Homo sapiens: one gene and its partners. The protein of the gene in region 3 purifies or fractionates together with the protein of the main gene of each other region. This does not show direct contact. Each region holds a gene or a part of one and is shown on either strand. Other genes may lie near its edges. The genes, in order: NOTCH3, PPP6C, ANKRD44 and PPP6R3.

Region 1 (7,027 bases), on a different chromosome or scaffold from region 3:
TACAGGCATGAGCCACTGTGCCCGGCCTAGCATAATCTTTTTTTTATTTTTTAAATTTGAGAAGGAGTCTCACTCTGTCACCCAGGCTAGAGTGCAGTGGTGCAATCTTGGCTCACTGCAATCTCCACCTCCTGGGTTCAAGCTACTCTCGTGCCTTAGCCTCCTGAGAGACTTGGATTACAGGTGTGCACCACCACGCGCAGCTAATTTTTGTGTTTTTAGTAGAGATGGGGTTTCACCATATTGACCAGGCTGGTCTCAAACTCCTGACCCCAGTGATCCGCCCGCCTGGGCCTCCCAAAGTGCTATGATTACAGGCATGAGCCACTGTGCCCAGCCTAGCATAATCTTTCTAACACTCAAGTCAGACTTCTTATTTGCCCTCACTAAAAACCATCCATGGCTCCCTGCAGAGAAAACGGCCACTCACCAGTCTTGCCCATGGGGCAGGCACAGTAGAAAGAAGCCACGCGGTCATGGCAGGTGGCCCCATGGAAGCACACGGCTGTGGCACAGTCATCGATATTCTGACTGCAGCTCTCGCCTGTCCAGCCATTGACACACACGCAGCTGTGGCCACCCAGCGTGTTGAAGCAGGTACCCCCATTGTGGCAGGCGTTGGGCTGCAGCTGACACTCATCCACGTCCTCCGTGCAGAACTGGCCTGTGGCACACAGATGCAGCAGTCCAGCCACCTGGCGCATGTCCACCCGAGGCCTGCCTCCCCGCTCCCTCTGGCCGCAGTGCCCACCTGTCCACTCAGGAGGGCACTGGCAGTTATAGGTGTTGACGCCATCCACGCATGTCCCCCCATTGAGACATCGGTGTCCTGGACAGTCGTCCACGTTCACTTCACAATTCTGACCCTCAAACCCTAGCAGGGAAGGGGGCAAGGATGGTCACCGCCGGGCTGGCCTGCTGTCCCCACGCCCACCCCTCTGACTCTCCTGAGTAGGGCTCACTCACCAGGAAGACAGGCACAGTCGTAAGTGAGGTCGCCACTCTGCCTGCAGGTGCCCCCGTTACGGCATGGTGAGGGTGCACAGGGCACCGCGGGGTTCTCACATAGTGGCCCTGTGTAGCCAGCTGGACACTGGCAGCGGAAGGAGCCAGGTGTGTTGAGGCAGGTGCCACCATGGCGGCAGGGCTCACCCACCCGGCACTCATCCACGTCGCTTCGGCAGCTGCGGCCCTGGTAGCCAGGTGGGCAGGAGCAGAGGAAGCGTCCATCGGGCCCCACTGAGCAGCGGGCACCGTGGGCACAAGGGCTGCTGAGGCAGGGATCTGGCAGGGAGCAGTCAGGGCCTGGAGGGACCAGGACAGGGTGAGTTTAGGACTGACCACACCCCCGACTACCTCCCCTCCAGACTCTTCCCCTCTCACCTCGGAAGCCACGGGGGCACCGGCATGAGAATCGGGCGGTGCCAGCCACCACTGAACTCTGGCAGACACCACGGCCAGCACAGGGGCCTGAGTGACAGGGGTCCTCCAGCTGACACCGCTCACCCACCCAGCCAGGCGGGCACCTGTGGGCAGAGATGGCTTGGTTGGGCAGCACAGGGCAGGATGGCCCCAGACACAAAGATACACACAAGACAGGCAAGAAACACGCAGGGAAACAGAGCAGCAAACACACATTTGCTGGGAGCAGTGGCTCACGCCTGTAATCCCAGAACTTTGGGAGGCTGCGGCGGGCAGATCACTTGGGGTCAGGAGTTCAAGACCAGCCTAGCCAACATGGTGTAACCCCGTCTCTACTAAAAGTACGAAACTTTGCTGGGCATAGTGGTGCGTGCCTGTAGTCCCAGCTACTCAAGAGGCTGAGGCAGGAGAATTGCTTGAACTCGGGAGGTGGAGGTTGCAGTGAGCCAAGATCGCGCCACTGCACTGCAGCCTGGGTGACAGAGTAAGACTCGGTCTCAAAGAAACAAAACAAAACAAAACACACATTCATTCATGCAACGAATATTTACTGAGTACCTACTACGTTCTGAGCAATACAAATACAGCAACAAACACAATGAAAGGGGTCCCTATCCCTCTGGATCCTTGCAGCCAGGTCCAGGCAAGGAGAACATATACGAATAACAAATTAATATACAACATGCTGGCAGGGGGCGGTGAAAGCCATCAGAACCATGAAGGATGTAGTCAGTTGGGTCACAGCCCCTGAAAAGATGACATCCATGTCCCAGAACCTGTGACTAGGACCTTACTTTTTTTTTAAATGGCTCTTTGCAGATGTAATTTTTTTTTTTTAAGAGACGGAGTCTTGCTCTGTCACCCAGGCTGCAGTGCAGTGGCGCGATCTTGGCTCACTGCAACCTCCACCTCCCGGGGTTCAAGCAATTCTTTGTCTCAGCCTCCTGCGTAGCTGGGAGTACAGGCACACGCCACCAGGCCTGGCTATGCAGATGTAATTAAATGAGAGATGTCAAGATGAGATTATTCTGAATTATCCACCTGGGCCCTAAATTCAGTGACAAGTGTTCATACAAGAGAACGGCTCACAACTGTAATCCCAACACTTTGGGAGGTCAAGACAGGATAATCACTTCAAGCCAGAAGTTCAAGATCAGCTTGAGCAACATAGGGAGACTTTTTTTCCACAAAAAAAAATTAAAAATTATAACCGGGCATGGTGGCAGGAGCCTGTAATCCCAGCTACTCTGGAGGCTGAGGCAGGAGAATCGCTTGAACCCAGGAGGCGGAGGTTGCAGTGAGCCGAAATTGCACCACTGCACTCCAGCCTGGTTGACAGAGGGAGACTCCATCTCAAAAAAAAACAAAAAACAAAAAAAACAAACAGGCCAGGCGCAGTGGCTCATGCCTGTAATCCCAGCACTCTGGGAGACTGAGGTGGGCGGATCACGAGGTCAGGAGTTCAAGACCAGCCTGGCCAATATGGTGAAACCTCGTCGCTACTAAAAATACAAAAATTAGCTGGGCGTGGTGGTGCACTCGTGTAGTCCCCGCTACTCAGGAGGCTGAGACAGAAGAATTGCTTGAACCTGGGAGGCGGAGGTTGCAGTAAGCCGAGATCGTGCCACTGCACTCCAGCCTGGGTGACAGAGAGAGACTCCACCTAAAAAATAAAAATAAAAGATTAGCTGGCCGTGGTGGCTCACACCTGTAGTCCCAGCTTCTTGGGAGGCTGAGGTGGGAGGATCGCTTCAGCCTGGGAGTTGAAGGCTGCAGTGAACTAAGATTGCACCACTGCACTCCAGCCTGGGTGACAGAGCAAGACTCTGTCTCAAAAAAAGAGAGAGGCAGCCAAAAGGAGATTTGGGTGGGAGAAGGAAGAGAAGAAGACAGAGACAGGGACTGGAGTGAGACAGCCACTAGCTGAGAAACGTCTGGAGCCACCAGAAGCTGCAAGAGTCAGTTCTCCCCTGGGTCCCCATGGAGAGGCTCAGCCCTGCCGATATCTTGATTTCAGACTTCCAACCTCCAGAACTTCAAGAGAATAAATTACTATTGTTCAAGCTACCCAGTTTATGGTAATTTGTTAGAGCAGCCGTAGGAAGCTAAACCACAGGGTTAAGGGGGATAGAATGATGGGGTCAAGGAGGTGGAATTCTATTTTCACAGACATATGAAGGTAAGGAGGGGGCCATGGGGCTTTCTGGGGAACGGCATTCCAGGCAGAGGGAACAGCAAATGAAAAGTCTCAGACCCATGTCCAAGCGCGGTGGCTCACGCCTGTAATCCCAACACTTTGGGAGACCGAGGCAGGTAGATCACCTGACATCAAGAGTTCGAGACCAGCCTGACCAACATGAAGAAACTCCGTCTCTACTAAAAACACAAAAAATCAGCCAAGTGTGGTGGCACATGCCTGTAATCCCAGCTACTCCGGAGGCTGAGGCAGGAAAATCGCTTGAACCCAGGAGATAGAGGCTGCAGTGAGCCAAGATCGAGCCACTGCACTCCAGCCTGGGCAACAAGAGCGATACTCGATCTCAAAAAAAAAAAAAAAAAGGAAAAGGAAAAAAAGAAGTCTCAGACCCCAGGACACAACCACGCAGGCACACACAGACAGGCCCAGAAACCACAGCTACACACACAGAGGGACACACCAATTGGACGCCATGGCCTGGCCAGCACTCAAGACACCAACCCACAGCATCCCACGCGGAAATGAGCAACTCTCACTCACAGGGACAGACAGCAGGGCTCCCACAAACCCTCAAGTCCCTTCTCTGGGACTTATATAGCCTCTTATGCAGGGATGGGAGGGTGGAGGGTTGGGGTACTGACACCACTGTTGGTACCCTCATCTTGGGGGGGTGGTCCTTCAACCTGCAGCCCCCTCCCCAAGCCCACCAAGGAGTGTGAGGAATTGGAACTGGGAGGGGTTGGTCTTAAGACTGGAAATCTCCAAGGGGCACTAGCGGGGTCAGAGGGAGGGGCTTAGAGAAGCCAGAGAGTCCAAGCTCCGCCCCCCGACGCTGCCAACCCTCACCCCCCTCTATCCCCCCACCCTCCGCCCCTGGCGCGGTTGTCCTCCCTCCGGCTTGTCCCAGACGCCTGAGACTGAACTCAACAAGCGGCTGACTCAGTCCTTAGCGTCACCCGCAAGATCCCCCCCACCCCGGCCCCCAGCGAAACAGGTCGGGGCACGGCCGAGCAAGCAAGGGTGCGGGTGGCGTTGGGAGGGGAGGGCACAGCTCCCGTCCCCTCCTCCAAGGCCCGCAGGGCGACCACTGCGGCCCCGACCGCGCGTCGGGAGGGGGCGCGCTGCGCTGGGCGCCGAGGATAGCTGGTCCCACCGCCAGGCAGGGCGCGACCCGCGCGGGCCCCCTCCCGACGCCCCGGGCGGGTTCCCACGCTCTGCGTCCCGCGCCCCCGCCGACCGGTCGGGCCGGTTCCAGCCCCAGCCCGCGCCCCGCCCCACGGCCTAAGCTTTGGGGGAGACGGAGGGGGGAGCGCAGACCTAGTTAGGGGGGGCACGGCGGGTGAGGCGAGGACTAGGAGATGGGGACGAGGTCTATGGAAACGTCTGCTGCCGGTGGGGGGGTCTTGGGGGATCCATGGGTGGGGTGACAGCTTGGGGGCATCCTTGAAAGGACTTGAGTATTTGAGACCGTGAAAGAGACTCGTGGGGGGTGGAGGGCGTGTAGGGAGTGGTTCCCACAGCCCAACTCGGAGGACTGAGCCCGCTCCACTCCGGGCGATCCGGGCTCCGGGCGCCGCGCGCGCCGGTGATTCACCTGTCGAAGGGCGGGGCAGCCGCGGGCTCATTCACCTGTCGGCAGTATTCCAGGCGCGGAGCTCCACTGCGCAGGCGCCCGGCCCCACCGCTCGCCCTCCCAGGTGTGTGGCTCCAGGTAAGGTCACACTTTTCCCCATCCCGCCCCACCTTCGCAGACCCCCCAGCCCCAGGAAACCCTCTCAGTCAGGCTCAGCCCTCCACAAAGGTGAGCCCGAGTGGGAGATCCAGCCAAAATAAATGTAGGTGTAACTTCAAAGCGGCTCTTCTTGGTCTAAAATCACCCCAGACCCACCCAGCTTGGGCCTGACCCAGTACTTGGCACACATGATGCTGAATAAATGAATACATTAATGAGTCAATCAATGGCTACTGCGTGAACTGCTGTTATTAATGATAGCATGAAAGGAGCCAAGCATTTCCTCATAACCTTGAGAGACTTCTCCTTAGAGCACCTGTTTCCTGCCTCCCTACCATTATTATTTATAATAATGCCTATGTTGAGCACATACTATATTCTGAGCACTTAATGTATGTTGAGTGCATACAGGAGTTATTATTGCCCCATTTTCCAGATGCAAAAACTGAGGCTCAAAAAGCTTGAATGCTCAAGGTGTCCCAGACCCCAGAATTTAAGCTGAGCTCTTTCTGTCTCTGCTCAGCTCCTTCCCAGCCTCTGCTCTGCTCCCTGCAACCTCTTGCCTTTCCTTGTGATATCTAACAACTAAATTGTTAAGTCCCTTCACAGTCGCCAGTGAAGCATTCCCTATTTCACAGGTGCAATGATGATCAGAGAGGGAAAGTGACTAGCCCAAAGTCACACTGCAAGTAAGTGGCAGTGTGGGACTGTATTATAGGCCTCCTATGTCCCCCTCCACTAAATGTTGAGAGATGGGAGGGGTGTGGAGGGTGTGAGCCACTGCGATTGGTCCCTGATAGTTTGTTGATTGAATAATACCTACCTCATGGGGGGCTTTACATGTGACCTCAGGTGGCCAAGAACTGTGAAGCTGGGATTACTGGGCCCATTTTGCAGACCATGACACTGAGATGTAAAGAGTTTAATTCCTAGCCGGTCAGCAACATGATGTGGGACTTGAACCCATGCCAAGAAGAGTGCAGAGCCCCTGCTCAGTTTCCAATGGGGAAACACGAGAGGTTGCCCAAGCCACACACATGTAGGAAGTGGTAGAGACATCCATGGTGAACACAGAGGCAGAGGGAGAAGACAAATCGCCCCTCCCCCCCGCCCCCACACACAGGGCCCACTGGTGGCTCTGAGCCAGGCACTCACAGGCAGGCAGCCTCCCGGGAGGGCAGCTGGGTGCAACGACCTCCATTTGCACACGGGCTTCCGTCCAGGCAAGGGGGGGCTGTGTGGGGGTGAAGGAAGGTGGAGGATCAGCCAGGTGCCCAGGAACCCCAGGCCCAAGTGACAAACCCCCTCCCTCCCTCCACCAGGCAACAGCTGCATGGGGATGGGGGCGTCTCTGCGGGTGCAGGGAGTCCCCCCATCCACAGTTCCCACGCCCCCCCCCCCCCCGCCCCAGCCCCAGCTGTTGAGGCTGCAGCTGTCCCTGCCAGCTCGAGCCCTGGGAACCACAAAGCAGGGGAAGGCAGGAGGAGGGGCTGTCTTATGCCAGATGTGGGGGCTCGGGAAGCTGCCAGAGCTAAGATGTGCAGAATGGGGTGTGCTGAGACAGGAAGTAAGGGTGCTGAGTGTTACAGGGAGGTCTGGGGCTTCATGCCCAGGTTCAGGGGTAATAGAAGGGGAAGGGGCAGGGGATCCTAGGGCCACGGGTCTTCCTTTCCCTG
Region 2 (7,027 bases), on a different chromosome or scaffold from region 3:
GTACCTGTAATCCCAGCTACTCAGGAGTCTGAGGCAAGAGAATCGCTTGAACCCGGGAGGCGGAGGTTGCAGTGAACCGAGATTGTGCCACTGCACTCCAGCCTGGGTGACAGAGTGATACTGTCTCAAAAAAAGAAAAAAAAGAAAAAAAAATGGTGGTTTTTTTTTTCAGGGAAAGTTTTTGAGAGAATGGCACAGCAGATTCTTGTAGATTTCCCTGGAATCAAAAATCTTGTTTGTATAAACATTTAATAGAAAAAATTTGTTTACGTGTATTTTATTTTTTTGTTAAAATCAAATTTCCAAATAATTCAGTATGTAACTCTTTATTGTAGTTATAAACTATATGTTTGTACAGTTTGATATAATTTGAAAAGAATATTGTGGCTATTGTATTGTTTGTAACTGTAAACTTTTACTTCACAGGGTGATTTTGTAGACAGAGGTTACTATAGTTTGGAGACCTTCACTTACCTTCTTGCATTAAAGGCTAAATGGCCTGATCGTATTACACTTTTGCGAGGAAATCATGAGAGTAGACAGATAACACAGGTCTATGGATTTTATGGTAAGAATTCCTATTTCTCTGATTCTGAATATTATTTTACTTTCCTCTTTGGAAAACAAAGCTACACAAGTCATACACATGCTTTATGTATATTATTTTCCCCACATCCTCACTCCTTCACTCCTCCCAAACAATTGAAAATCTTATGCTCGAGAGAAGACCACTGTTAACTTTTTGGTGTGCATCTTTCTAGATCTGTGCCTCAAAGTGTAGCTGGAATCACCTGGGTTCTCATTAAAAATGTAGATTGCCGGCCGGGTGGGGTGGCTCACACCTGTAATCTCAGCACTTTGGGAGGCTGAGGCAGGCGGATCACAAGATCAGGAGATCGAGACCATCCTGACCAATATGGTGAAACCCCTTCTCTTCTAAAAATACAAAAATGAGCTGAGCGTGGTGGTGTGTGCATGTAATCCCAGTTACTCGGGAGGCTGAGGCAGGAGAATTGCTTGAACCAAGGAGTCAGAGTTTGTGGTGAGCCGAGATCATGCCACAGCACTCCAGCCTGGCGACATAGGGAGACTCCGTCTCAAAAAAAAAAAAACCAAAAAAAAAAGGAGAATGCTGGGCCTCACCACAGATTTATTAATCAAAATATTTTGGAGTGGGAATCTAGAATCTGCTGAAGGTGAATGTTCTGCACAAATTTGAGAGTCCATTCTCATCCATTTTGTATGTGTGTGTGTGTGTTTATGTGTGTTTATATATGTACAAACACGTGCACACTAAAATGGGGACATACCTGATTTTTTCACTTTATTAATGTTATTTTCATGGCTGCTTCATATACCATATGGATGTAGCATAATTGATGTATCAGTTTTTCCTCTATCGTTGGACTTTAGAGTTGTTTTTAAGCTGCTGTTATACATCCTTTTACATATATCTCTGTATGCTCACTCCAGAGAATGCTAGGACCTCAGGGATCAGAAGCAGAACTTAGTCATAAACAGCAAAATAGGCCAGGCGCAGTGGCTCACCCCTGTAATCCCAGCACTTTGGGAGGCCGAGGCGGGCGGATCACCTGAGGTCAGGAGTTCGAGACCAGCCTGGCCAACTAAACCCTGTCTCTACTAAAAATACAAAAATTAGCCGGGCACTGGTAGGGGGAGGGGGGAGGGATAGCGTTAGGAGACATACCTAATGTAAATGACGAGTTAATGGGTGCAGCACACCAACATGACACATGTATACATATGTAAAAGACCGACACGTTGTGCACATGTACCCTAGAACTTAAAGTTTAATAATAAAAAAAATTTAGCCGGGCATGGTGGTGGGGGCCTGTAATCCCAGCTACTCAGGAGACTGAGGCAGGGAGAATTGATTGAACCCAGGAGGTGGAGGTTGCAGTGAGCCAAGATCGCTCCATTCCACTCCAGCCTGGGCAACTGAGCCAGACTCTGTCTCAAGAAAGGAAAAAAAGCAAACTAGCTAATTCTTTAAAACTTTTATTTGGTTGAAAGAGAGAGAGAGAGAGAGAGAGAGAGAGAGAGCGAGCTTATTAGGAAGCCCCTTCAGGGAAATAGAACTGTCAAGATTATGAATTTGGATTTTCCTTGAGCACAATTAAGACAGATATTGAGAGATTTGGAAACATTAATTGCAGAACCCTTTAGATTTAAATTTTATATTTTGAATTATCTTCTTTCATTATAAAGATAGGCTGGGCCAGGTGTGGTGGCTCATGCCTGTAATCCCAGTACTTTGGGAGGCTGAGGCAGGCAGATCACAAGGTCAGGAGATCGAGACCATCTTGGCCAACATGGTGAAACCCCGTCTCTACTTAAAATACAAAAATTAGCTGGGCATGGTGGCACTTGCCTGTAGTCCCAGCTATTCGGGAGGCTGAGGCAGGAGAATCCCTTGAACCCGGGAGGTGGAGGTTGCAGTGAGCCGAGATTGCACCATTGCACTCCAGCCTGGATGACAGTGAGGCTGTCTCAAAACGAAACAAAGCAAAGATAATCTGAACTCTCTTACTCTTCAGTTTGTCTGCCATTATCAATTAGAGAAATTTTGAGAATTTATTGTTTTTATATAATTTTTTTAATACGTGTAAAGTTAGGTAATATTTATCTCCTTTCTACAGGTGACTTTTTATTTTCATTCACAAAATAAACACCAATTGAAATACAACTTTTGGATTCTTTTGCAAAATAATCAATATTTTGGATAACATACTATGATATTAGCTCAGTGAAAACAGTACTAAAACTAATGTTATAAAAACACACACACCTACTATATATATGTAACTAATGCTACATGTATAATATATAAAATACATATTGTTATATATGGCTAATATATGACTTTTTTTTTTTTTTTTTTTTGAGACGGAGTCTCGCTCTGTCACCCAGGCTGGAGTGCAGTGGTGCGATCTTCGCTCACTGCAAGCTCTGCCTACTGGGTTCACGCCATTCTCCTGCCTCCGCCTCCCAAGTAGCTGGGACTACAGGCGCCCGCCACCATGCCCGGCTAATTTTTTTGTATTTTTTAGTAGAGACAGGGTTTCACCGTGTTAGCCAGGATGGTCTCAATCTCCTGACCTTGTGATCCGCCCGCCTCGGCCTCCCAAAGTGCTGGGATTACAGGCATGAGGCACTGCGTCCAGCCATATGACATATGTTTTGAATAAGATAATTTTAGTTATTATAGGACTTATATTGATTTTCAAGGAATAAAATATCCCTATATGACTTTACACTGGGACTTCAGTTCACACTGATAAACACATACTGGGCAGTTACTATTGAGCCAAGTTCAAGATCCCTGCCTGCAACCTGAGCTCATTGTTAGGGCTCTCTTATGGCAAGTTTACATAACAATCTTGCTTCACGTAGATATATAATTGAGAAAATCTTGGGGATTGGTCATAACCTGCAGACTTCTTTCCTATATCATTTTCAGCTTCACTTAAGGCAATAGTGATATGTCAGGTTTTTTTTTTTCTAAAATTATGGAAGAAGCCAAAGTACAGAGCTTCCATGGTGTTAACAAAAGAAGTGTGTACCCTATTAACTATGTAGACAGTCAGGGTACAGTGGCTCACATCTGTATTCTCAGCACTGTGGGAGGCTGAGGTAGGAGGATTGCTTGAGCTCAGGAGTTCAAGACCAGCCTGGACAACATAGGGAGATCCCCATCTCTACCAGAAATAAAATTAGCCAGGTGTGGTGGCACTTGCCTGTAGTTCCAGCTGTTCAGAAGGCTGAGGTGGTGGGATCGCTTGAACCCAAGTGGTTGAGGTTGCAGTGAGCTGTGATCGCGCCACTGCTGATTGTGCCACTGTATTCCAACTTGGGCAATAGAGTGAGACCTTGTCTCAAAAACAAAAAACTACGTAGGCAGCAGAAAGAGTGTTCAACTGAGAATTTGTAAGAACCTGATTGGCAATCTGTCCTCAGTTTTGATCCACTGAAGCTCAAGTGTTTAGTCGCACGATTTGCAGAAAATCTCAGAAGAGACAACTTAGCCCTGAGAAGAGTTAGGAATTGCTCATGCTCCTATAACTAAGGATCCTCTAATTTGTTTGATCTGTTTATCCTGCTAGAATTGTCTCCTTAAATAAATTTATCTGCTTACCAGAATTGCCTAATATTAACATAACTGTTAAAACATTTGCTTCAGGTTGTGTGAAATTAGTATTTAACTCTTCTAATGATAGCATTTTGGCTAATAATTTCAGCTGCTTCTTAGGTCCATTCCAGGAATGAAGAGCAGTACTACATCCTTAGGAAATACAGTCATGTGCCACATAATGACATTTCAGTCGATGATGGACTGTATATATGACAGTGGTCCCATAGATAAAACGGAGCTGAAAAATTCCTATTGCACAAATACTTACCATTGTGTTACTATTTCCTTATGATATTTAGTACAGTTACATGCTGCACAAATTTATAGCCTATGAGCAATAGGCTATATCATATTGCCTAGGTGTGTAGTAGGCTAGACCATCTAGGTTTATGTAAGGACATCCGATGATGTTCACACAACGATGAAATCACCTAACAATGCATTTTTTAGAATGTATCCCCATGGTTAAGGGACATACAACTGTATGTAGTTAGTCACTAGCGTTCTTTTGGCTCTATGTGGAGGTCCTAGCAGGACTAAATATGTGTCATATCTTGCTATCCTAGTTTAAGCTGAATTTCTGTTGTACTGAAGGCTGCTCTAGTATTGGATATATTGTTTATTTTTATTAGCAGATTCATTAATTAAAACCCTTCTGTTTCTTTCACAGATGAGTGCCAAACCAAATATGGAAATGCTAATGCCTGGAGATACTGTACCAAAGTTTTTGACATGCTCACAGTAGCAGCTGTAAGTTTCTATTTTTAAAGTCTCATGTACGTTCCTGCCAATAACACATTGCATATTTTTATCTAGTTGTCATCTCAATTATATTGATATCTTTAGTATTCACTGATGAGTTTAGATATGCCTGAGGTTATATGTTCAACTCTTTGTTATCCTTTTTTGCTAGTTAATAGATGAGCAGATTTTGTGTGTCCATGGTGGTTTATCTCCTGATATCAAAACACTGGATCAAATTCGAACCATCGAACGGAATCAGGAAATTCCTCATAAAGGAGCATTTTGTGATCTGGTTTGGTCAGATCCTGAAGATGTGGATACCTGGGCTATCAGTCCCCGAGGAGCAGGTTGGCTTTTTGGAGCAAAGGTCACAAATGAGGTAAAGCCAACATTTTTGGAAATGTAATTTGTGGATTGCTAATGGGCTGCATAGAGAACTATGGTGGCCCTAGATAACAAACTTGTAGTCTAGCTTACTCAAAATATGGTGGCTGTGGATATTAAATTTCTAGTTTAGTTATTAACGTATGTCTTTCTTTAATGGTTAAATAAGATGACACAGTGAAAGCACCTACTCCAGCATCCATTTGGTAATAATGTATAAAGTAAATGTTCTTTCCTTTTTTTTTTGTTTTTGAGATGGAGTCTTGCTCTGTCGCCTAGGCTGGAGTGCAGTGGCGTGATCTTGGCTCACTGCAACAACCTCTGCCTCCCAGGTTCAAGCCATTCTCCTGCCTCAGCCTCCTGAGTAGCTGGGACCACAGGTGTGCGCCACCATGCCTGGCTAATTTTTGTATTCTTAGTAGAGATGGGATTTCACCGTGTTGGCTAGGCTGGTCTTGAACTCCTGACCTCAGGTGATCCACCCGCCTCAGCCTCCCAAAGTGCTGGGATTATAGGTGTGAGCCACCGCACCCGGCCAGCCCCTTTCCTTTCAAGTACTGTAGTTAAGTAACAAAATGGCAAGACCAAGATAGGCAATACTTTTTTTTTTTTTTCTCAAAGACCTCAAATCACACAGATACAGACACTTTATTAGTTTCCTCTACAAGAGACAATAACATGAATCTTTTTTTTTTTGAGACAAGAGTTTCGCTCATGTTGCCCAGGCTGGAGTACAATGGTGCAATCTCGGCTCACTGCAACCTCTGCCTCCTGGATTCAAGCGATTCTCCTGTCTCAGCCTCCCGAGTAGCTGGGATTACAGGTGTACACCACCACGCCTGGCTAATTTTGTATTTTTAGTAGAGACGGGGTTTCACCATGTTGGTGAGGCTGGTCTTGAACTCCTGACCTCAGGTCATCTGCCCACCTTGGTCTCCCAAGGTGCTGGGATTACAGGCGTGAGCCACCGCGCCCAGCCTACGTCAAATCTTTTTTTTCTTTTTAACAGAAATCTCTGTTCATTTGAAAAGCCAAATAGATCCAAAGAAAGAAGATGAAAATTAAATACTTAAATTAATCAAAAGGCACTATGATACCACCTAAAACCTACTGCCACAGTGGTAGTAGGCTAAGGAAGATCAAGCTACAGCAAATCATGTAATGTGAATGTTAGCGATTACATAGCAGGAAGCACATTTGCTTTCCAGAAGACTACGGTACAGTGTTCATTTGGGCCCAAGAGGATCTTTGGCCAGGAAAGGATCAAGATGGATGAAGGTAAAGCCAAATCAAAGGAGTAGGTACAAAAGAGAATCCAAGCTACATAGTCAAGCAGATGATGATGGATCAGGCTTCTTCCTCCCAAGAAACATTTGCTGCGCTGTGCTGCCTCCCCCCTCAACCACCCCCCACCCCCTACCCCATGGCTGCTCAAGCCCAACTGCCTACTCCTGCCTTACAGGGTGCTCAGCCACCGGGACTAGGTTTGGGGTTGCCCAGGGCTCTTGCCATAATTTAGCATAGACCTTGGGGAGAACTGCTCACACATGGGTTGGCTTTGCTGCTGGTTGTTCTCAACAAAGAAAACCCTGAAGCATTCACATGCAGAGTAGTCTGAGCTTCTCCAGTCACAGTCAAACACCCCCACACAACATCCTCAAAAGTCTGAAATCTTGTAACAGCTGAGCTATAGTTAAAGCTGCAAGGCTCACAGAATCATCAAGGAAGCCAGAATGAGACAATGCA
Region 3 (7,027 bases):
CTCCAGGACTTTCAGCCACAAGTGGAAACTGATCTTCTTGCTGAGATTTTAAAGAATGTGATGAAAATATTTGTACACCAAACCTTCAGCATCTATATCATTCTCAACTTTAGAGCCACAATGAATTGAAAAAGTAGGCTGTCACTTCAGTCTTTTCCTCTGACACACATGACACATGTCCTGCTCTGACATCATATTTCTACTTTGTCAGAACTCCAGATCTCTGACCTGCCTTTAGATTTCATGTTAATTTGGCTCAGATCATCTGCAGGCAGTGAGGAGGCCTCACCATTACAGAATGTATGCTTGATTTCATTGTTGGTTATCTTTCAGATGGTCAATTTACTCTTGGCCAAAGGGGCAAATATCAATGCATTTGACAAGAAGGACCGGCGTGCTCTGCACTGGGCAGCATACATGGGTAAGGATTCCATGCATGGAAAGCAAAGTACAGATAACCTTAACTAAATAAGCCATGGGTCTCTCATTGACCATGTAGGTTTTCTCCAGTCTGACTTCTTTTCAAGCTTGGGTTGCAATTGAATGAAGATTTGGTTGGTTTTACTGGCATGCATAGTGCACTCCAGTCGGGCAGTTGCTTTGTCAGATATTTATTTATCCTACAAAGAAGAGGAGGAATGAATCATGGCTTGGGCCTCTTTGAATGTGCTTCAGTCTGGATTGGAAAGCTGCACAGATTGTGCTTATTTTAACTTGTCATGGCAGTAAAATAAGGTGTTTTAAAAAGAAAGAGCACTGGCTCGGAAAGCAAGGACACAAATTCCATTCGTCTTTTTAAATTTATAAATATTTTTGAAAGAAACAAAAAGAAAGGAAGAAAAGACAAACCTCTGGCTATTTTATAGATGGAGGGCACCAGAGGCGCTGGTGATTATCCTGATAGTCCACTGACGACAAAACTGAAGCCTGCAGCCCTCATTTCTACCCGCTTGGGAGAGTTCACATTTCTACGTTTTTCCTTTTCACTTTTGTTGGCAAATCCCACTGACAAATGAGAGATCTCACAGAGTTTATTCTAAGTGTAGACTTGTGGGAAATGAAGAACTAAGATATTCCCTTTGTGTTTCTAATTGGAGAACATCCTGCCATTAGAAAAATAGACAGGATTCTATCAGCACCAAGTTGTAAACAACCTGAATGCCCATCCACAGGAGATTGTTTTGGTAAATTCTGGAAGATCCACACAAGGGGACACTTTGCAGTAACTACAGTGATGAGTCCATGAGTGTTTATTAACACAGAGTCTGTGATATGTTAAATGAAAGCATATTATAAAACAGTATAAATAATATAATTCTCATTTTCATTGAAAAATCTGTACAATAACAAACTTGGAAAATATTATATGCTAAAATTTTAATTGATTGTCTTTGGGGATTTATGATTGTGGATGATTTTGGTTTTCTTTTAATACCTTTTTGCCTTTCTGAATCCTTTTTAACAAGCATATGTGCCTTTTATCATCACTTTAAAAATTAACATTAATTGTAGGGAGAAAGAGTAGGTTGGGGCAGGGATGAAATAAATTATGTGGCTAAAGGTGGGTCTGAGTGAATCCTTGGGCTTAAAAAAACAGAATCTTAAACTTTTACAAGCATTAGCATTTAAAAAAAAAAGTTGACATGGATTTTTGAGTTGGCTGAAGCATATGAAATGACTGCGTGGCACCTGCAGGACTGGAGCCAGTGACTGTGGGAGACAGCTGTGTAGGCCGAACACACACTAAGCTAGTGTGGATAGGACTCAAAGAATGCAAAGTTTCACGATTGCTCTCTGCTGATGTATATACAGTTAAAGCATTTGGATAAATGACTCTAAAGAAATCAAATCATTGTTTTGTGTGCTGTCAGGATACAAATAGGAATAATAGGCAAAACCAGGGCAAATAGCTTAAGATAGCAGCACTAATAATCGAAAAAAATTTTTTCTATATAAAGTCTTGGAGAGAAAAGAGTCAAATTTTAATAAAACAAGCCAATACTTTCCCCCCACCCCAACACACACACAAAGTCCTGGAGTCAGTACTTGTCTTCTACCCTTCAATTTTCAGCCATATTTAGAGCAATGATCCTGAAGCATTGAACAATCTTCAGTCCCGAAATAAAGGTCAAATATGCTTGTTTCTTTGTTTATTTATTTATTTATTTTTTGAGACAAGGTCTCGCTCTGTTGCCCAGGCAGGAGTGCAGTGGTGTGATGTCGGCTCACTGCAGCCTCTGCCTCCCAGGTTCAAGTGATTCTCATGCCTCAGCCTCCTGAGCAGCTGGGACTACAGGCATGTGCCACCATGCCCAACTAAGTTTTGTATTTTTAGTAGAGATGGGGTTTCACCATGTTGTACAGGCTTATTCTATATATAGTGAATTATGGAACAGAGTAAAATATTGTAGAAAAAAATGCTAACAGGAGCTAAAACTAGAAGGGTTTTCTGTTTGGCCTCTAATTCATGAGGATACTTTTAAGTTGAGGCATATGTAATTGCCATTTTTGTGGGTCCAAATACAGTTGAGCAGCAGTAATTTTATATGATTAAACAATAATCTGGGGTCATTCTCATTAATTGTTTTTTTTTCTTTTATCAGTTTTTCCTAACTGAATTGTCATTGTTAAACTTTTCAGTGAGGAATGGCAATTGTTTTCAAAAGCATTGCTTTCATTTTAATACAACATTTTTAAAGGCTCTCTACTAATATCTTGGCAAAACCTCACCATTATTCATTAGTGTGGTAACAAGCATCACCTAGATCTCCTTGAAGAGAAGGCTCACATATGAATCATCTTTTTTCTCCCCACAGCTTTTACATTATGCCTGACTATAGGAGGTACTCAATAAATATTTGTTGAATAGTTGCCATGAACCAGCTTTTTACAAATAACTCAGCAAAATACTGGTGGCGATGAAAGCTAATAGTTGATAATTTAGGTGAAATGAATCAGCAAATTGTCCTATAAAGGTTAACGATGTTTTCTGCTGCTTTGTTTGTAAAGGCCACTTGGATGTTGTAGCATTGCTCATTAACCATGGCGCAGAAGTGACCTGTAAGGATAAGAAGGGTTATACCCCTCTGCATGCTGCAGCCTCCAATGGACAGATTAATGTTGTCAAGCATCTCCTGAACCTGGGGGTGGAGGTGAGCTATGATGAATGCATCAATGCATGGCCAGTGTATTTGTAAGATTTCTGTTATTCTAAAGTTAAATCCTGTTTGCACTTTAATTCAAGGGCAGGGGAATTGTTTTCTAGCATCCTGTCTTTTTGAGTTTTTGTGGGCAACTGATGAAGGGCAGTGGGGGCATACACTAAGCAGAGGAAAACTGGAAACTGAATAACTTTCTATATCAACATAGATAAATATATAGACATAAAGATTCTATGTAATATATATTAACCAGTTGTTCTTAAAGACTGGCCAAGGTTCTGCATCCCACCTTCCAAATGTAGCCTTCTAAGTCATGACTTACAGCAGAAATGAATGAATAAATGGCAGAGACAAACAGCAGCAATGTCTACTCTTGAGCTGGAAAAGGCAGACTGCTGCCTTCTCTTTCTGCTGGTAGAACAGGAGCAGTGGTGAGGCTGGAACATCCTGTCCCCCAAGAAAGGAAAACCAAGTTGCATCATTATGGAAAACCATAATGAGGAAACCAGGCATCCAGGGCAGGTCTCAGAAAGCAATAGGGAGCCGTGGACGAAACACACCTCCTGACGGCACCACTGCTCTGCTACTAAAATGCAACCTGGTGAGGTGTCGGACTCCAGAGCAAAACAGAGAGTGGATTCTGACCCGCCTTCCATGTTTAGACTCCACAGCCACCTCCCCTGCCATCTCCGCAGCCACTTCCTCTGCCATCCCCCACCATTTCTTGAGGTTTTCTGTGCCCCAATCCTAGAGTGTGGGACTCTTTTCATTCTCCTCTGATTTACTTCTCTTTTGGTGTTTTGAAAGCAGCTTTGCCCTTCACCTTTTATTCCTTTGTTAGCTGAAAAATACCTCTCCCCAGGATGAAACTTCTCTGTCTCCAGTTCATTTTTTGCCACATTGACTTTTTGCTGATCTTTACCATGGGGTGACAAGCATTCCCAAGATGACCACACTGGGGCAAGAGTAAGCTCTGAACAATTATATTGGCGGATGGCTATTTCCTTTCTCTAGCCACAGCCGTTATGCTTTTTGTGGAAAATGGAGTAAACTGGCTCTAATGACTTTAATCACCCTGTGTTGGACTCTTTTGCAGATTGATGAAATCAATGTCTATGGAAATACAGCGCTTCACATCGCCTGCTACAATGGACAGGATGCTGTGGTTAACGAGTTGATTGACTACGGTGCTAACGTGAACCAGCCAAACAATAATGGGTTCACCCCTTTGCATTTTGCTGCTGCCTCCACTCATGGTGCTTTGTGTCTTGAATTGTTAGTAAACAACGGGGCAGATGTTAACATTCAGGTATGACACTCTTAGTCTCTGTGTTGAATGCCTTTGCATTGAGCTTCTGTTTGAGCAAAATCAACTGCTGCAAATTATGCCATGTTTTAGTGAGTTGGAACCTCACAGCCTTGTCCTGGATTTGGAGGCTATAAGAAAAGTTGTCTGGAGGCTGAGGCAGGTAGATCATGAGGTTAGGAGTTCAAGACCAGCCTGACGAAGATGGTGAAACACCATCTCTACTAAAAATGCAAAAATTAGCCAGGCGTGGTGGCGGGTGCCTGCAATCTCAGCTACTCGGGAGGCTGAGGCAGAGAATTGCTTAAACCCGGGAGACAGAGGTTGCAGTGAGCTGAGATTGTGCAACTGCACTCTAACCTGGGCAACAGAGCAAGACTCCGTCTCAAAAACAAAAAAAAAAAAGTTGTGTTATTTTTCTTCAGGAGTGGTGGTATCAGCTGAAAGGTACCAAGGCTCCAGCCGTGTGTTCTTGTTAGCTTAGTGAATGTGTCAGGACAAATACTGGATCTCTAGGATATTGACTTGCCCAGAAGCTAATACTGAGGTGAATGTTGAGCTGATAGGGCAGTGTTGCTAAGAATTCAAAGGAAGGCCTAATAATGATTGTAGGCCTGTTTCCAACTCCAGTGTGGGTTTAGAGCTTCTCAGATACCTTCTTTCTTTTCTTTCTTTTTTTTTTTGAGATGGAGTTTTGCTCTTGTCACCCAGGCTGGAATGCAATGGCGTGATCTCAGCTTACTGCAACCTCTGCCTCCCAGGTTCAAGCGATTCTCCTGCCTCAGCCTCCCCAGTAGCTGGGATTACAGACATGCACCACCATGCCCAGCTAATTTTTTGTATTATTAGTAGAGATGGTGTTTCACCATGTTGGCCAGGCTGGTCTCAAACTCTTGGCCTCAAGTGATCCACCTGCCTCAGCCTCCCAAAGTGCTGGGATTACAGGTGTGAGCCACTGTGCCCAGCCAATACCTTCTTAAAGCAAACCCCAGATAGTGGCTTCAGTGATGTAGCACTGAGCTGGTCATCACAATCATTCCTTTATTCAGCAAATTTACTAAGGACTACCCAGTGCCCTCTGTTTGGTACTGAAAGAGTGCTCTAAGATGAGATTCAGTCTCTGCCTTTAAGGAACTTACAGTGTAGTAGGGAGGTAGCATGCACTCAGGTAATCATGAGCAAGAGAAGATATGATGAGAAGAGTCATAAAGCATTGCAAACTCTAAGAAGCAATTGTTGACTTGTTTTTTGCTTGGGAATAAAAAATGGAGATCGATTTTGAGGGGAGACTTGGAAGATTAATGTAGTTGAGTTGAGGAGGGATAGAGATAATTTGAGAGAGAGTGTTCCAGATAGAACAGCATGAGCAAAGAGGGGTGGGAATTCTGGATAGGAAAACCTCTAGGTAACTTGTCAGCTTGCCATGTGACAGCTAACCAAGGGGAGCTTATCACGCAGCATTCATAATTTGGGCGACATCACTTGAATGCATTTAGATTGTAGCAGAATATCCTTAGCTGTGCTAGGAGACCTTTTATTCAACCCAGGCTTCCCTTCTTCCCAGCACACAGGGATCCTGAAGCAAGGTCCCAGTGTATTCTGTCTCTGGTTTTGAAAAATGATTTCTAAGGTGTAATTTCAAGAATATCACATCAGTCTATTTTAATAACCTTCTCTATTCACTATTAAAATCTTATATTTTTTCACAATTTCTAATAGTGGTGAAAGATGTGACAAATTTTCAGAATAGCAATTGATTGTATCAAATAGAGTATAATTTTATGAACATGCCAAGTGTGGTGGCTCGGCCTGTAATCCCAGCTCCTTGGGAGCCTGAGGTGTAGGATTCCTTGAGCCCAGGAGTTTAAGATCAGCCTGAGCAACCTAGTGAGATCCTGTCTGTAAAAAGCTTTTTTATTTTTAATTGTATGACAGAAAGGAGCCAGAAATGAGCTGAAATGTGATTTGACCAAGGAAGAGGACTCATCTACTGGATGATTTTGAGCCCAAGGAGCTTGGGCCTCTCCAGGCTCTGCAGGCCACGAATCATTCTAGGGGTCATATGATCAGACCTGAGCATTAAAAACAGTAATCCGGTCACAGAACACCAAAGGCAGGAAAAAAAAAGGAAAATAATCATATATATGACTACAAAAAAGTCTTAAACATTTATAAAACAAAACAACAACAATAAAACCTCTAACATGAAATTAAAATAAGAGCAACTTAGGGAAAATTTTCTTCAATATACATGATAAGCAAATAGTTAATATGCTTGATATAAAAAGAGCTCATACAAATCAATAAGAAAAAGTGATCATTACTAGAAAACATGGAGCAAAAGTCAGATCACAAGAGAGAATAAAAAATACATTAAGCCTGTGAAAAACTAGTATTACTGGTAATTAGAAAAATACAAACTAATACAAAAACGTACATTTGTGTTAAAGAACGGCAAATATCAAAATGGCTAATAACACCTAGTATTATCAATGAAAACATTGAAATGCAATAAAGAAATATGATCTCTTTTTTAATGCTAAAATGTTATGGTTATGTG
Region 4 (7,027 bases), on a different chromosome or scaffold from region 3:
TTTCCTTTCTTAACTTCAAATGATTGTCTTTTGATTTACTCTAGTTCAAGAGTTCTCAGTTGGGGGTGGTTCCCCCCTCACCCCCCAGGAAACATTTGGCAGTGTCTGGACATATTTTTGCTTGTTACACCTCTGGGAGTGGGCAGTGTGCTTCTGGAGGGTAGAGGCCAAGGATACTGCTAAACATCCTACAGTGTCCAGCATAGCCTCCTCCCTGCCCGCCAGCAAAAGTATCCAGTCCCAAATAGCAACACTGCTGAGGTTGAGAAATCCTGCACTTAGATAGATGTGAGACTGGCCTACATTAGAATAAGCCTGCATTAGAATAATTAGAAATTTTTTAAGACCATGGATGTTGGACTCCACCTCTGGAAATGGTGGGATTGAGAATCTTATTAATTTTTTTTGAGATGAGTCTAGCTCTGTCGCCCAGGCTGGAGTGTGGTGGTGCCATCTCGGCTCACTGCAACCTCTGCCTCCTGGGTTCAAGCAGTTCTCTGCCTCAGCCTCCCTAGTGGCGGGGATTACAGGCACCCGCCACCATGCCCGGCTGTTTTTTGTATTTTTAGTAGAGATGGAGTTTCACATCTTGGCCAGGGTGGTCTTGAACTCCTGACCTCGTGATCTACCCGCCTCGGCCTCCCAAAGTGCTGGGATTACAGGTGTGAGCTACCATGCCCGGCCACGAGAATCTATTTTTTAGAAGCTTCTCAGACAATACTGAAATGCAGCTGAATTTTGGAACCACTGTTTTACACCACAGGTTTAGGGACTGTTTGTGAGTTAAGGGTTCCTTTCGGTGATCTGTGAACTTGGTCTTTGCAGTACCTAGATCCTGCCTTGGAGATTATTTAGTAGTGGGGATTATTTAGATGGTATACTTAACCATTTTTCAGATGCCTGAAGACTGAACTTTAGAAGCATTTGTTAATTGATTTTATAAAATATCTTAGGACTTTTTTTTCTTAACCTCATGAAAATACATTACCATACTGTGCTGAAACTAAGCAAAATTCTTAGATATTTAGAGTTTGCTTCTGTGCTGAATAATCTTACACTACTGTAATTTTTGAGTTAGTATCTTTTGCCCTCCTTTTGTCAGTCAGTGGTCAGGTCTGGTTTTAGATGCCAGCTTCAACTTTTTTTTTTTTTTTTCGGAGACAGTCTCACTATGTCACCCAGGCTGGAGTGCAGTGGCATGATCTTGGCTCACTGCAACCTCCGCCTCCTGGGTTCAAGTGATTCTCCTGCCTTAGCCTCCTGAGTAGCTAGGATTACAGGTGCGTGCCACCACACCTGGCTCATTTTTGTATTTTTAGTAGAGATGGGGTTTCACCATGTGGGCCAGGCTGGTCCCGATCTCCTGACCTCAAGTGATCCGCCCGCCTCGGCCTCCCAAAGTGCTGGGATTACAGGCGTGAGCCACCATGCCTGTTTTTTGTTTTTGTTTTTGTTTTAATAAAGACCTATTCCCAGAGAATTAGCCCTGGATCAGTTTACCAGTTCTGCCCATTGAGGGCACAGATAGGCATACAGTATGCTCAGCCTTTAACACAGTGATCCTGCCCACTGGTAAGTTGGACTCTTCTGTGCCCTAGACTCTGATCCCAGCAGAGAAGTGTTCTTTTCTCCTGGGGAGATGAGATGCAGTGGTAGAGAGAAGGGTAGATCTTTTTTGCTCATATTAAAATTTAGATTATCTAGTTTATGGAATGGAAGAATATTAGGAAAACTATAAATTTTTAGCAGCTAAATGTTAATATCTGAAGTTACAAAAGGTCATGGAGGCATTTTCTTATTCTTCATCCTGAAATTCGGCCTGTGCCTATGTTGAGAACTACCAGTGACCACCATCTACTTCTAATATCCATTTATTTCATCAGCAAATACATTAATTGAGTCCTTACTCTGCTAGGAACTGTATTAGGGATTCACTGATGAACAGGCCCTTAAGGACCTGCAGTCTAGAGGAAGAGGCAAACAAGAGACGACAAAGCTGTTAAGAATTGTACATGGTGTCAATGGGGCCTGGGAGGAAAGAGCTTCTGTTTGCTGGTCAGTTGGTTGATTTGTTTAAACTTTGGGTGGTTGAGATTGCCAGAAGTTTTGCAAAAGAATAAGATAGTTACACTTTGTTACTCATTTATAAGAAATGATTACTTCGACTTGCCTCCTTAGTTTGAGGAGTCTTAAAAAGCAGTGCCATTCTTCCCATACTGAAGCCGTTTTGTAATGACAGATAGCTGTTTATAGCTCCCTACACAACAGTTATCCTTTGACCAAACCTCAGACACTGACTCTCTGGTTCCAGACCCGTCCGAAGCTTGCTGTAGGTTTTTGCAAAATGTTTCCGGCATTCTTGAAATAGATGCTACTTCAAGTGGGAGGGGGTGTTTCTCCTGCTGCATTATGGATCTAGGTTGACTGGAGATTTTGTTTTGGCCTTTTGACTTTGGCTTAGATTTATTTGTCATGGAAGCCCCCTTTCCTACTTCTCACCCCCTTTAGTTTTATGAGGAGGGAGATAGTTGCTAGTTAGATCAATACTCAGTTTATTTCAGGTATTGAAAGATTACAGACTGACATTTGGATACCAGGTAGGTTGGCTACGTGGTAAAGAAGCAAGTAAAAGGGCATTTGACAGTATGTGGAAAGGTATCTTATCTCTATGCCTAGCTAGGACATTTTCTTTTTTTTTTTTTTTTTTTTGTTGAGACGGAGTCTCGCTCTGTCACCCAGGCTGGAGTGCAGTGGCGTGGTCTCGGCTCACTGCCAGCTCTGCCTCCCGGGTTCACGCCATTCTCCTGCCTCAGCCTCCCCAGTAGCTGGGACTACAGGGGCCGGCCACCATGCCCGGCTAATTTTTTGTATTTATTTATTTATTTTGAGACGGAGTCTCACACTGTCGCCCGGGCTGGAGTGCAGTGGCGCTATCTCGGCTCACTGCAAGCTCCGCCTCCCAGGTTCACACCATTCTCCTGCCTCAGCCTCCCGAGTAGCTGGGACTACAGGTGCCTGCCACCACGCCCGGCTAATTTTTTTTGTATTTTTATAGAGATGGGGTTTCTCCGTGTTAGCCAGGATGGTCTCCATCTCCTGACCTTGTGATCCGCCCGCCTTGGCCTCCCAAAGTGCTGGGATTACAGGCGTGAGCCACCGCGCCTGGCCATTTTTTGTATTTTTAGTAGAGACGGGGTTTCACCGTGTTAGCCAGGATGGTCTCGATCTCTTAGTGAGCCGCCCGCCTTGGCCTCCCAAAGTGCTGGGATTACAGGCGTGAGCCGCTGCACCCGGCCCTAGCTAGGACATTGTCATGTCACAGACTGGGCAAAGAGCTGGCTTTACCCTGAGTAGAGGCTATTTACTAATTGTCACTTACGGCTGGCTAGAGTTGACCTGTTTTAGATGCATTAGTGAAGACTATACAGTTGACTGAACTTATGCAATTAAAGTTCGATAGGTTCTGAACATCTTTTTACAGATATAAGGAGGCTCTGATTTTGTACTTCACAGTAACTCTGGGGAAAACCACGGGATTATTAGTTCCAGAATTTCTTACAGTGGAAATACATAGTGACTTGAAGTGATTTGAATTCCCCAGAGATTGACTACCGTGAAATCTGATGGCCCAAGAAAAGATGAATGAAAGATTGTTTTTAGGAACATTAGAGAGCAGGACTAAAACGGCTGCAGACTGATGTTGAGTCAGACAGACTTGGAGAAAGCTGTGTGGGACTGTTAGTTGGAGCCTTGGGTTTCCTATACCTACATGTAAATCTGAACAAAAATTCTGGTGGCAGAGACACACTTTGAGAAAAAAGAGCTTGCCTGAGAACACATGTCACACTGAGACCCTAATCAGGGCAGTTCACACTGCCTGCTCCATGGTTGGCTGGTCAGATTGGTTGGGCTTTGGTCCTCAGATGGGCGTAGCGGGAGGAACACTGACTAGTCTTGACAATTGACTGAGGCTTCCATTCGTGAGAATCATGGTTTTGGGCTGCAACAACACTTAGACGTCATTTATTTTCTATTTATTTATTTTTTTGAGATGGACTCTCAGTCTGTCGCCCAGGCTGGAGTGTAGTGGCGCGATCTCGGCTCACTGCAACCTCCGCCTTACAGGTTGAAGCGATTCTCCTGCCTCAGCCTCCCGAGTAGCTGGGACTACAGGCGTGTGCCATCACACCCAGCTAATTTTTTATTTTTAGTAGAGATGGAGTTTCACCATGTTGGCCAGGCTGGTCTCAAACTCCTGACCTCTAGTGATCCGCCCGTCTTGGCCTCCCAAAGTGTTGAAATTACAGGCATGAGCCACCACGCCCAGCGCATTTATTCTTACAGAAAAATGGAGGCCATGCAGAAGAATGGAACCAGAAGGAGCAGAGAAATCTCAGCCCCGGTGATTCCATAGGATTGTGATGTTCCAGACCACAGTTTTAAGTGCTATTTGTTTCAAGAGTGACATCACAGCTGGATTTTACTTAGAATTCAGAATAAGTGGTTAACGTCTGGAATTTTATTTTTGGTAGTAGTATGTGTCAGTTTTTTGTCACTGTATAGTAGTTGAGGAGTTCTTTTTTGTTGACATAGAGATACACAGGGTTTGTATTGCCTTTGGACAATGGACAGGTCTCATCTGTCTCTTTTGTCTGCAAGTGAGACCCTGCCCCTTCTGAGTAAACAACACTCTGTGAATGACTGTCCCTTTTCACTGTGGACTTCTTGTTATTACACCCTTAGATGGACTCAGCAGCTATGAGATCCTCCCATCATAGGTATGGTATTTTGTAACAAAAGTACAGAAACACCTCCAAGGTGCAGTGAATGATCTCAAGGAGAGAAATGGAGTATTATAGGATCATAGAGAGGCCTCGAGGTCTAACCAGCTGCTCTGCGGAAGTCAGGGTGATGGTGGTTTCAGTGTTGGGGAGGTTACAGAGTTAGTGTTGATATGCAAATTTTCTTCCTCCAAATTTGGAGTATGTTATATATGTTTTAATGTATATAACTGTGAATATGAATATAACATTAGAACATATATAACATAATTTCTGCTGGTGGAGTAGAGATCATAAATTTGAGGTTTGCAGTTTGCTTTCTAAAACATCTTTTAAGTTTATTCTTTTCTGGCACACAGGACGTTGTAGGGTAACTTTGCTGTGGAGTCTCACATTTTATATAGAATCATTTTTTCAACATAGTGTGGATAATCACATACGCCTTGAAGGATCAATATATGTTAACAGATGATTGGATCTTTTTGATTTTGCACTTAATTTCTTTACAAATTCTGCATTATAACCAGACAGCTCTATTGAGGGTTTGCAGATTTTTTCTGTAAAGGACCAGTTAGTAAATATTTTAGGCATTGGAGGCTAAATGGTCTCTGCAAGGACTCATCTCTGCTTTTGTAGTGTGAAAGCAGCCATAGCCAATCTGTAAACAAATGAAGGTGGCTGTCTTCCAATAGGACTTTACTTATAAAAGCAGACAGAGAGTTGGATTTGGCCTGTGGGTTGTAGTTTGTCAATGCCTGCTCTAATCTGTTTTGTCTTTGTTTATCTTTTTGAGATAGAGTCCCAGGCTAGAGTGCAGTGGTGTAATCTGGAGTGCAGTGGTGTAATCCCAGGCTAGAGTGCAGTGGTTTTTGTTTATTTTTTTGAGATAGAGTCCCAGGCTGGAGTGCAGTATAGCTCACTGCAGCCTTGACTGACCTCCCTGGCTGAAACGATTCTCTCACCTCAGCCTCCCGAGTAGCTGGGACTGTAGGCACATGCTACTACACCCAGGTAATTTTTTTTTTTTTTTTCTTGTAGAGACAAGATCTTCCGATGTTGCCCAGGCTGGTCTTGAACTCCTGGGCTCAAGCAGTCCTCCCACCTTGTTTTCCCAAAGTGCTGAGATAACAGGTGTGAACTACCATGCCTGGCCTCTAATCTGTTTTTTTATTTTAACTTGTAATTGGACTATGAATTCAAAGAGTATATATCAGCATGTGCCCAGATATTAAACATTAGAACTGACACTTGTGTACCCACTAACCAGCTTAGGAAATAGAAGGTTGCCATACCTTTGGCTCCCTGTGTCCTCGTCTCACCACTTCCCTCTTTCTGACCTCCCCAAGGCAAATACCTTGTATGTATCATTTTTCTGCTTTACTTTATGGTGTTGCAAAGTATAAATGTATCCTTATATAATGTGACTTCATTTTTGCATTCCTTTAGACAATGTAAATGGAGTCACTTTGTTCTTTTTTTGCCCCCACTCAACATTGTTTCTGTGATCCTTTTATTCAGATGTTTGAGTACTTACCATGTCTTAAACACTGTTCTACTGCTGGGCATGTTAACAGTAAGCAAAGCAGATGAAAAGTCCTTGTTTTCATGGAGCTTACATTTTGGTAGGGGAAAGACAGTTAACAGATAAATGAAAGATACAGTAGCCATATGGTAATACAAACAGGGAGAAAAGTAAACCAGGAGAGGTGGGGTGTGGGGGAGTGCTTGTCTGCAGATTGAAATACAGCAGTCAACAGAAGGAGTGGAGGGACCCAGCCACAAGGCTGTGGGTGGCAGTGGGGTAGGGGCAGCATTATAGGCGGAGGGTCAGCAGGACAAGGTGCTAAGAAGGAGGCATGTCTGCTGTGTTGGAGGGGCAGCGGAGGCCAGTGTGGCTGGAGTGAGGAGCCTGAGGGAGAGTGGGAGGAGGGTAGGCCAGATGGATGGGGGAGATGGGGGGAGGGCGTAGGTCACACTGGCCATTGTTAAGATTTTGTCTTTTTCTCTGAGTGAGATGGGTAAGTCATTTGGTGTTTTGAGCAGAGGTGTCACATGATGTGGTTTCTAAAGGTCCCACTGTCCTGTGCTGCTGGAGGGAGGTTGGACGCTCTGGCAGTGATCCAGGAGAGCAGTAATGGCAGCTGGGACTGAAGGGGAGCAGGGGTGGGAGTGAGAAGAGGTTGGCTGCTGGATCCTTCTTGAAAAGGAAGAGCAGACAGGATTTGCTGGCAGATTGGAGTGGGTGT

What was found.
Region 1: the proteins of ANKRD44 (region 3) and NOTCH3 purify together in Homo sapiens (affinity purification with mass spectrometry; 4 studies listed by BioGRID and IntAct, with this or other methods). This does not show direct contact.
Region 2: the proteins of ANKRD44 (region 3) and PPP6C purify together in Homo sapiens (affinity purification with mass spectrometry; 7 studies listed by BioGRID and IntAct, with this or other methods). This does not show direct contact.
Region 4: the proteins of ANKRD44 (region 3) and PPP6R3 purify together in Homo sapiens (affinity purification with mass spectrometry; 4 studies listed by BioGRID and IntAct, with this or other methods). This does not show direct contact.

What each region holds. Positions count from the first base shown.
Region 1 is NC_000019.10:15,190,994-15,198,020, forward strand, and holds part of NOTCH3 (neurogenic locus notch homolog protein 3 precursor), read right to left. Parts: intron 6,586-7,027; coding exon 6,507-6,585; intron 1,527-6,506; coding exon 1,384-1,526; intron 1,306-1,383; coding exon 967-1,305; intron 875-966; coding exon 752-874; intron 665-751; coding exon 431-664; intron 1-430. UniProt on the Homo sapiens protein: Functions as a receptor for membrane-bound ligands Jagged1, Jagged2 and Delta1 to regulate cell-fate determination.
Region 2 is NC_000009.12:125,151,782-125,158,808, reverse strand, and holds part of PPP6C (serine/threonine-protein phosphatase 6 catalytic subunit), read left to right. Parts: intron 1-426; coding exon 427-568; intron 569-4,823; coding exon 4,824-4,903; intron 4,904-5,066; coding exon 5,067-5,276; intron 5,277-7,027.
Region 3 is NC_000002.12:197,118,775-197,125,801, reverse strand, and holds part of ANKRD44 (serine/threonine-protein phosphatase 6 regulatory ankyrin repeat subunit B), read left to right. Parts: intron 1-333; coding exon 334-421; intron 422-3,009; coding exon 3,010-3,152; intron 3,153-4,257; coding exon 4,258-4,470; intron 4,471-7,027. UniProt on the Homo sapiens protein: Putative regulatory subunit of protein phosphatase 6 (PP6) that may be involved in the recognition of phosphoprotein substrates.
Region 4 is NC_000011.10:68,463,745-68,470,771, forward strand, and holds part of PPP6R3 (serine/threonine-protein phosphatase 6 regulatory subunit 3), read left to right. Parts: intron 1-7,027.